2 linked regions of the Homo sapiens genome follow. The protein of the gene in region 1 interacts with the protein of each later gene in a pairwise test. Each region holds a gene or a part of one and is shown in the gene's direction. Other genes may lie near its edges. The genes, in order: ZBTB32 and ELF2.

The links.
Region 2: the proteins of ZBTB32 (region 1) and ELF2 interact in a two-hybrid assay, tested with the Homo sapiens proteins (one large-scale study listed by BioGRID and IntAct).

Annotation. Positions count from the first base shown.
Region 1 is NC_000019.10:35,714,417-35,717,713, forward strand, and holds the end of ZBTB32 (zinc finger and BTB domain-containing protein 32), read left to right. Parts: intron 1-106; 5' UTR 107-210; coding exon 211-1,091; intron 1,092-1,340; coding exon 1,341-1,414; coding exon of another isoform or gene 1,415-1,522; coding exon 1,523-1,591; intron 1,592-1,716; coding exon 1,717-1,881; intron 1,882-2,061; coding exon 2,062-2,336; 3' UTR 2,337-2,622; downstream 2,623-3,297. UniProt on the Homo sapiens protein: DNA-binding protein that binds to the to a 5'-TGTACAGTGT-3' core sequence. May function as a transcriptional transactivator and transcriptional repressor. Probably exerts its repressor effect by preventing GATA3 from binding to DNA.
Region 2 is NC_000004.12:139,072,694-139,076,509, reverse strand, and holds part of ELF2 (ETS-related transcription factor Elf-2), read left to right. Parts: intron 1-2,942; coding exon 2,943-3,056; intron 3,057-3,816. UniProt on the Homo sapiens protein: Isoform 1 transcriptionally activates the LYN and BLK promoters and acts synergistically with RUNX1 to transactivate the BLK promoter. Isoform 2 may function in repression of RUNX1-mediated transactivation.

The DNA of each region.
Region 1 (3,297 bases):
TCTGGATAAGCTCCAATCCTCTCTTGGGTTACTTTATTTGCTCACTCAGGACAGAGGGCTCTGATCTAGGACCAGCAACTCACACCCTCTCCCCTCACATCCACAGGCTTGAAATGAGATGAGATGTTCCTCCCTCCCCTTTCAACCATGGACCTCACACTGTGGACTTCCTCTTAGAGCCTCTGAGTTAGGTACCCAAGCCAAGGCACAATGTCCCTGCCCCCCATAAGACTGCCCAGCCCCTATGGCTCTGATCGGCTGGTACAGCTAGCAGCCAGGCTCCGGCCAGCACTCTGTGATACTCTGATCACCGTAGGGAGCCAGGAGTTCCCCGCCCACAGCCTGGTGCTAGCAGGTGTCAGCCAGCAGCTGGGCCGCAGGGGCCAGTGGGCTCTGGGAGAAGGCATCAGCCCTTCTACCTTTGCCCAGCTCCTGAACTTTGTGTATGGGGAGAGTGTAGAGCTGCAGCCTGGAGAGCTAAGGCCCCTTCAGGAGGCGGCCAGGGCCTTGGGAGTGCAGTCCCTGGAAGAGGCATGCTGGAGGGCTCGAGGGGACAGGGCTAAAAAGCCAGATCCAGGCCTGAAGAAACATCAGGAGGAGCCAGAGAAACCCTCAAGGAATCCTGAGAGAGAACTGGGGGACCCTGGAGAGAAGCAGAAACCAGAACAGGTTTCTAGAACTGGTGGGAGAGAACAGGAGATGTTGCACAAGCACTCGCCACCAAGAGGCAGACCCGAGATGGCAGGAGCAACGCAGGAGGCTCAGCAGGAACAGACCAGGTCAAAGGAGAAACGCCTCCAAGCCCCTGTTGGCCAAAGGGGAGCAGATGGGAAGCATGGAGTGCTCACGTGGTTGAGGGAAAATCCAGGGGGCTCTGAGGAAAGTCTGCGCAAGCTCCCTGGCCCCCTTCCCCCAGCAGGCTCCCTGCAAACCAGCGTCACCCCTAGGCCCTCGTGGGCTGAGGCCCCTTGGTTGGTGGGGGGCCAGCCTGCCCTGTGGAGCATCCTGCTGATGCCGCCCAGATATGGCATTCCCTTCTACCATAGCACCCCCACCACTGGAGCCTGGCAGGAGGTCTGGCGGGAACAGAGGTGAGTGGCGGGGTCTAGTGCTCTGCCTCCAGGCTGGGAGGGCATGGCCCAGGAGGGGCAGCCCTGCTGGGTGGAAGGGCACTGCATCTCTACTGCACAGTTCCTGAGCTGGGGAAGAGACAAGAAGCTGCTGCCACAGGGCACGCCAAAGCCCAGCCCCCGGGGGAGGACTTGGGATACCCCCTCTTCACGAAGGGGCCAGGCTCCCAGGTTTAGCCAAGGCTGTAACTCTTCCCCACCCCATCCCAGGATCCCACTGTCCCTAAATGCCCCCAAAGGGCTCTGGAGCCAGAACCAGTTGGCCTCCTCCAGCCCTACCCCAGGTAAGCCCCTCGCTGTCCTGCATACACCTGTAACATGGTGTCTTCTCTGGGCTGGGGCTCGAGGAGTCCAGCCTGAGCAGGGCCCCTACCTCCCACTGTTCCTTCCAGGTTCCCTCCCCCAGGGCCCCGCACAGCTCAGCCCTGGGGAGATGGAAGAGTCTGATCAGGGGCACACAGGTGAGTCGGGCGGGGGCACTCGTGCCTCAGCCCCACTGTAGCCCTTGATTTCCTGCCTGAATGGTACAGTGAGTTGGCGCTGGGATTCCTGGCCCTGCCCTCCTTTGCCTTCTCTGTCCCCACAGGCGCACTTGCAACCTGTGCGGGTCATGAGGACAAGGCAGGCTGCCCACCTCGCCCGCACCCTCCCCCGGCCCCTCCTGCTCGGTCTCGGCCCTATGCGTGCTCTGTCTGTGGAAAGAGGTTTTCACTCAAGCATCAGATGGAGACGCACTACCGAGTCCACACAGGTATGGGCGCCCTGCCCTGTGTGAACTGTCGGCTTTCTTCCCAACTCCGCTCCTGAGTCTCCACCTGTGTGCCCGGTTCCCGCGCAATCCCCTAGCCCCGTGGCCCGATCCACCCCTAACTTGGCCAGCTTTCGCCGCCTTCTTCCTTCCTTCACCGGCCTCCCCTTCCGACCGCTCTAGGAGAGAAGCCCTTCTCCTGTAGCCTTTGTCCTCAGCGCTCCCGGGACTTCTCGGCCATGACCAAGCACCTGCGGACACACGGGGCCGCTCCGTACCGCTGCTCCCTGTGCGGGGCCGGCTGTCCCAGCCTGGCCTCCATGCAGGCGCACATGCGCGGTCACTCGCCCAGCCAACTCCCGCCCGGATGGACCATCCGCTCCACCTTCCTCTACTCCTCCTCGAGGCCGTCTCGGCCCTCGACCTCTCCCTGTTGTCCTTCTTCCTCCACCACCTGACGGGGTGTCGGTAGCGTCTTAGCCAAGAGTCCAATTAAAGAACGAAAAGCGGGCCGGCTCGGCTTCTGACCTGGCACCGCTGCTACGGCGGCCTAGCAAATTCCGCCCCAGAAGCGCCCCAGGAAGGGCGCCGAGTGCCCTCTCCTGGACGATCGCGGGTCGCAGAAGCCCAGGCCAGCGAGCCCTACAGAGTGAGGACACTGAAGTGTGCAGGAGCGAAGGTTAACAGTAGGGGAGATTGTCGATCTCATCACCATAATAAAGAGTTTCCTGTGCCCTCCCTTCAGGACTAGAAAGCCGAGTTTAGTCTGTGCACACCCCCGCCCACGCCCCTTGTCCTGTAGCGGCCCCTGGTGGCCCTGCGTCCGCTGTCCAGCGGGATGGACACTTCTTCCACCCCCGAGGCGCCCCGTCCTCCCCAGGAGGCAGCCGGCCCCGAGGACTCGGTGTCCGGGCACACCTTGCGGCATGCCGGTCCTGGACTGGTGGGGGCTGTGCGACCGCAAGTCACTCGCCCCTTCCACTGCAATCCACGGCGCGCGGAGTCTGATCTGGGAACGCTCGGCCCGGGAGAGAGAGGAACGCGTGCTCCGACCCTGCTTTCGGCCACCCGCCTCCTCTCCGGGAGCACACGGACCCCGAGACCGCGGCCTCTCCGGCGTCTTCCCTCCACACCGTGCCAAGCCGCCGCCAGGTCGCGCCTGGAACGGAGACTGACTATGCTTTCCACCGCTCCTTCTCCAGCCCACGCCTCCTGCAGCCGCGAACTGCATTTCCCAGGGCCTCGGGGGTCCCGGGGCCCGAGCCCGCGGCACCCTGGGAGTGGTAGTCCACGCGGGCCGCCGGCCTAGCCAAGAACAATGGGAGGAGCCTGGGGCTAGGACCACACCTCCCGGAGACCCGGCAACCCGCTTTCCGGGTCCTGGCCGGGAACCCCGCCGTCCCGGCCCTCGCGCCCTGG
Region 2 (3,816 bases), on another chromosome or scaffold:
GCAGACTTTAAAGAGAATGCTTGCTAGAATAAATTTTAAAAACTGGAGAATTGAAGGTTTTTTTTTTTTCTTAGTGTATGTGAGTATTGTAGGGAGGCACTTTGAAAACAATAATTGAGAATGATAATATGTCTTATACTTAATAATGCTAAGTTTTCTTAAAGTTGAGCTACACAGGCTGATTGAATCCTTTGCTTCAGTGAAGCTGCAGATAAGAGTAAGCAGGGTCACCTAAAGATAGATTTACTTAGAGGTTTGGCTGCCTCTCTGGAACCATTTAGCTTTGAACAGATTTCCATAAATGGAAAGAGCAACTGGAGAGACCCAGTACCTTGTGGATGATGTGCAACAGGTGGTAAAACAGTCATTGGATTTTTAAAATAAATGCTTTCCAAATGACTGTTGTTTAAGACTGAGGCTTTAGCATTTAGGGAACTTTGAGATGAACTGGATTTTTTCCCCCAATTAAAAGTTTCCTGGAAACAATTTTAAAAGATTCATATCGTTAGTGTATAGTGCTTATGAATTTGTAATATGACTTTATGAAATTTGTATAAACATTTACTTTTAGTTCCTTTAGGGGACATCTTAAAAAAAATCTGTCAAGTTAGAGACTCTTAAATATTCATGTTTCAGAACGTCTTACTAAGTTAACTGTTCAACATTTTAAGTCAGGATGTGAAATTAATATATTATTAAGATAATAAAATTTGTTCTTGAATTGCTGATTTTCTTGTAAGGTCAGTGGGTTGTCCTTAATTCAGTACATAAAATAAATACCTGCCTGGCGTGATGGCTCATGCCTGTAATCCCAGCACTTTGAGAGGCCGAGGCGGGTGTATCACCTGAGGTCAGGAGTTCAAAACCAGCCTGGCCAACATGGTGAAACCCCGTCTCTACTAAAATACAAAAATTAATCCGGTATGGTGGCATGTGCCTGTAATCCCAGCTACTCAGGAGGCTGAGGCAGAAGAATCGCTTGAACCTGAGAGGTGGAGGTTGCAGTGAGCTAGATCATGCCACTGCACTCCAGCCTGGGCAACAGAGCGAGACTCCGTCTCAAAAAAAATAAAAATAAAAATCCGCATGTCTGCTCCATGAAAAGTCTATGTTGGGAACCATGGCATATGTAAAGATGGGTTAAGCTAGCCCCCCAGACCTCAAGAAGTTTATAATCTTACAGGAATGATAAGAAATTATCATATTCTTGCTCTATGAGAGAGATTAAGTTGCTTACCTCAGGTAACAGAAATAAGTGGCAGAGACTGGAACCCAAGCTGTTGGACCTGAAAGCCCAAACCACTGACTGCTGTACACATTGTTTTACAAGTAACATAATCAGCAAAGCATAAAGGAAGTGCTAGAAGAGGAGAGATACAAAGCGTGGTAGAATTTGAAGGCCTCATGGGAAGAATAAACTCTAAGAAAAAGTCTTAGGTTAAAACCCACTGAGGCTCTGAAGAGAGCGAGGTTAATTATAAAGAAAGTTCTCAAGTACTCTGGCAGTAAATATAATGCATGTTGTTATCCATCTTTAGTCACCTCTGCCTGGAGAGTACAGTTGTCCCTCAGTATACCTGGGGTATTGGTTCCAGGATGTCTCCTCCACCTGGCAGATACCAAAATCCTAGAATGCTCAGTCAAGTCCCTTATACAAAATGCTGTAGTATTTACACTGTATTTTTAATTGTTGTATTTTTTTTATTGCCTCCCCCTCCCCTGCAATATTTTCTTTTTGTTTTTTTTTTTTGAGACAGTGTCTCACTCTGTCGCCCAGGCTGGAGTGCAATGGTGTGATCTTGGCTCACTGCAACCTCCGCCTCCCAGGTTCAAGCGATTCTCCTGCCTCAGCCTCCTGAGTAGCTGGGACTACAGGTGCCCGCCACCACGCCCGGCTAATTTTTATGTTTTTGATAGAGATGGAGTTTCACCATGTTTGTCAGGATGGTCTCGATCTCTTGACCTCGTGATCCGCACGCCTTGGCCTCTCAAAGTGCTTACAGGTGTGAGCCACCACACCCGGCCCCCCTGCAATATTTTCAATCTGAGGTTGTTTGACTCTGCTGATGCGGAACCCTTGGACACGGAGGGCTTACTCTACTCAGTCATTCAAGAGGGTCTGTAAGAATTGAATTAATTGATTAAATTAGCGCAGCATGGTTCTGTTAGGTGCCCTGGCTTTAATGGCAATACATCAAAATATATAATTGCCCTCACAGGGTTTTTAATCTACAACCAGCCTCTCCCTGACCCTTCCTCCCTTCCCACAAGTTAGTATTGGCCTAAAATTGATGCAGGGTTCAAATTTCAAGGATCTTTCTTTGTTTTCCTTTGAGTAAGATTCAGAAACTTCTCAGTAATTTCTTTTGTTGTTGTTGTTTTGAGACAGAGTCTCACTCTGTCGCCCAGGCTGGAGCGCAGTGGTGCGATCTCAGCTCACTGCAACCTCTACCTCCTGGGTTCAAGCGATTCTCCAGCCTCAGCCTCTTGAGTAGCTGGGATTACAGGCATGTGCCACCACGCTCAGCTAATTTTTCTATTTTTTGGTAGAGACGGGGTTTCACCATGTTGGTCAGGCTGGTCTTCAACTCCTGACCAAGGTCTACCCTCCTTGGCCTCCCAGAGTGCTGGGATTACAGGCATGAACCACCATGCCTGGCCAACTTCTCAGTAATTTCTAATCAATGTCATTGGTTACTTCATAATCAATATTCATTTTATATCAGTATTCATTTTATAAAATGTAGATATTAGCTTTTTAAAAATTATTTCTGTAATTTATATAGACGAATAGATATCAATGGCTTAGAGTTAGTCATGTTATTTTATATTTATTTATTTTTCATTTCTCTTTCAGGAGTGAATATGTTTATTTCTTAGTAATATGTTTTAGTCATGTGTTTAGTGTATTTTTAATTGAGTAGAACTTATTTTTCCTCCAGTGGAAGCATCAGTTCACAGCAGTAATGCACACTGTACAGATAAGACAATTGAAGCTGCTGAAGCCCTGCTTCATATGGAATCTCCTACCTGCTTGAGGGATTCAAGAAGTCCTGGTATGTAAACTGTTCATTCTTATGTTAAACGTGTCATACTACTTCATATGTCTAAAATAAAGTTTTTTGTTTTTTTAATCCAATGGAATTGTTGGGAATTCTCAAAGGTACATTACACATGAATACATGACAGCAGTAATTGAACTTTATTTGTCAAGGCCTCCAAGTCTTAAATACTTAATTTTCATAACAAATGATACAGAAAATACCCACTATAGATAGACAAATATTTATTAAATAGCTATTTGTACTGTCATGTCTATTTCCTTAACTCTGGGCAAGTTATAAGCCTTCATAGTCCTTCAGAGTATGATAGATGGGAGCAGTTGCCTGTTAGGACCACTTTCAATCCTTTATTCAATGATAAATAGGCAGTAACTCCAGAGAACCACACATGGTAGAGAGACAAGGGAGCTTTTGACATTTTTTTCACACATCCTTCAGTGTGAGTTTTTATTTTTTTGTGGTCCCTCTTAGTCTTTAAGAAAAACTTTGATAGTCATTTTGTCCAATCCTGATTTGTCCTAATTTTAATTTAATGCCCAAATGTTAATTTGACTTGATACAAAAATACTGGCTCACCTTCTCATTGGGATTCACAATAAGAGCAACCATACTTCTTAATTTGAATAGAATCCTGTGTATTACTCAGAGATATGAGAATAAATTTGTAGCATTTTTGGTCAGTCTATTAATCTAAGATAGTATGTATTAATTGTATCTCTTAATTGAAATAGAAATGTCATATCTTGGTTATTTG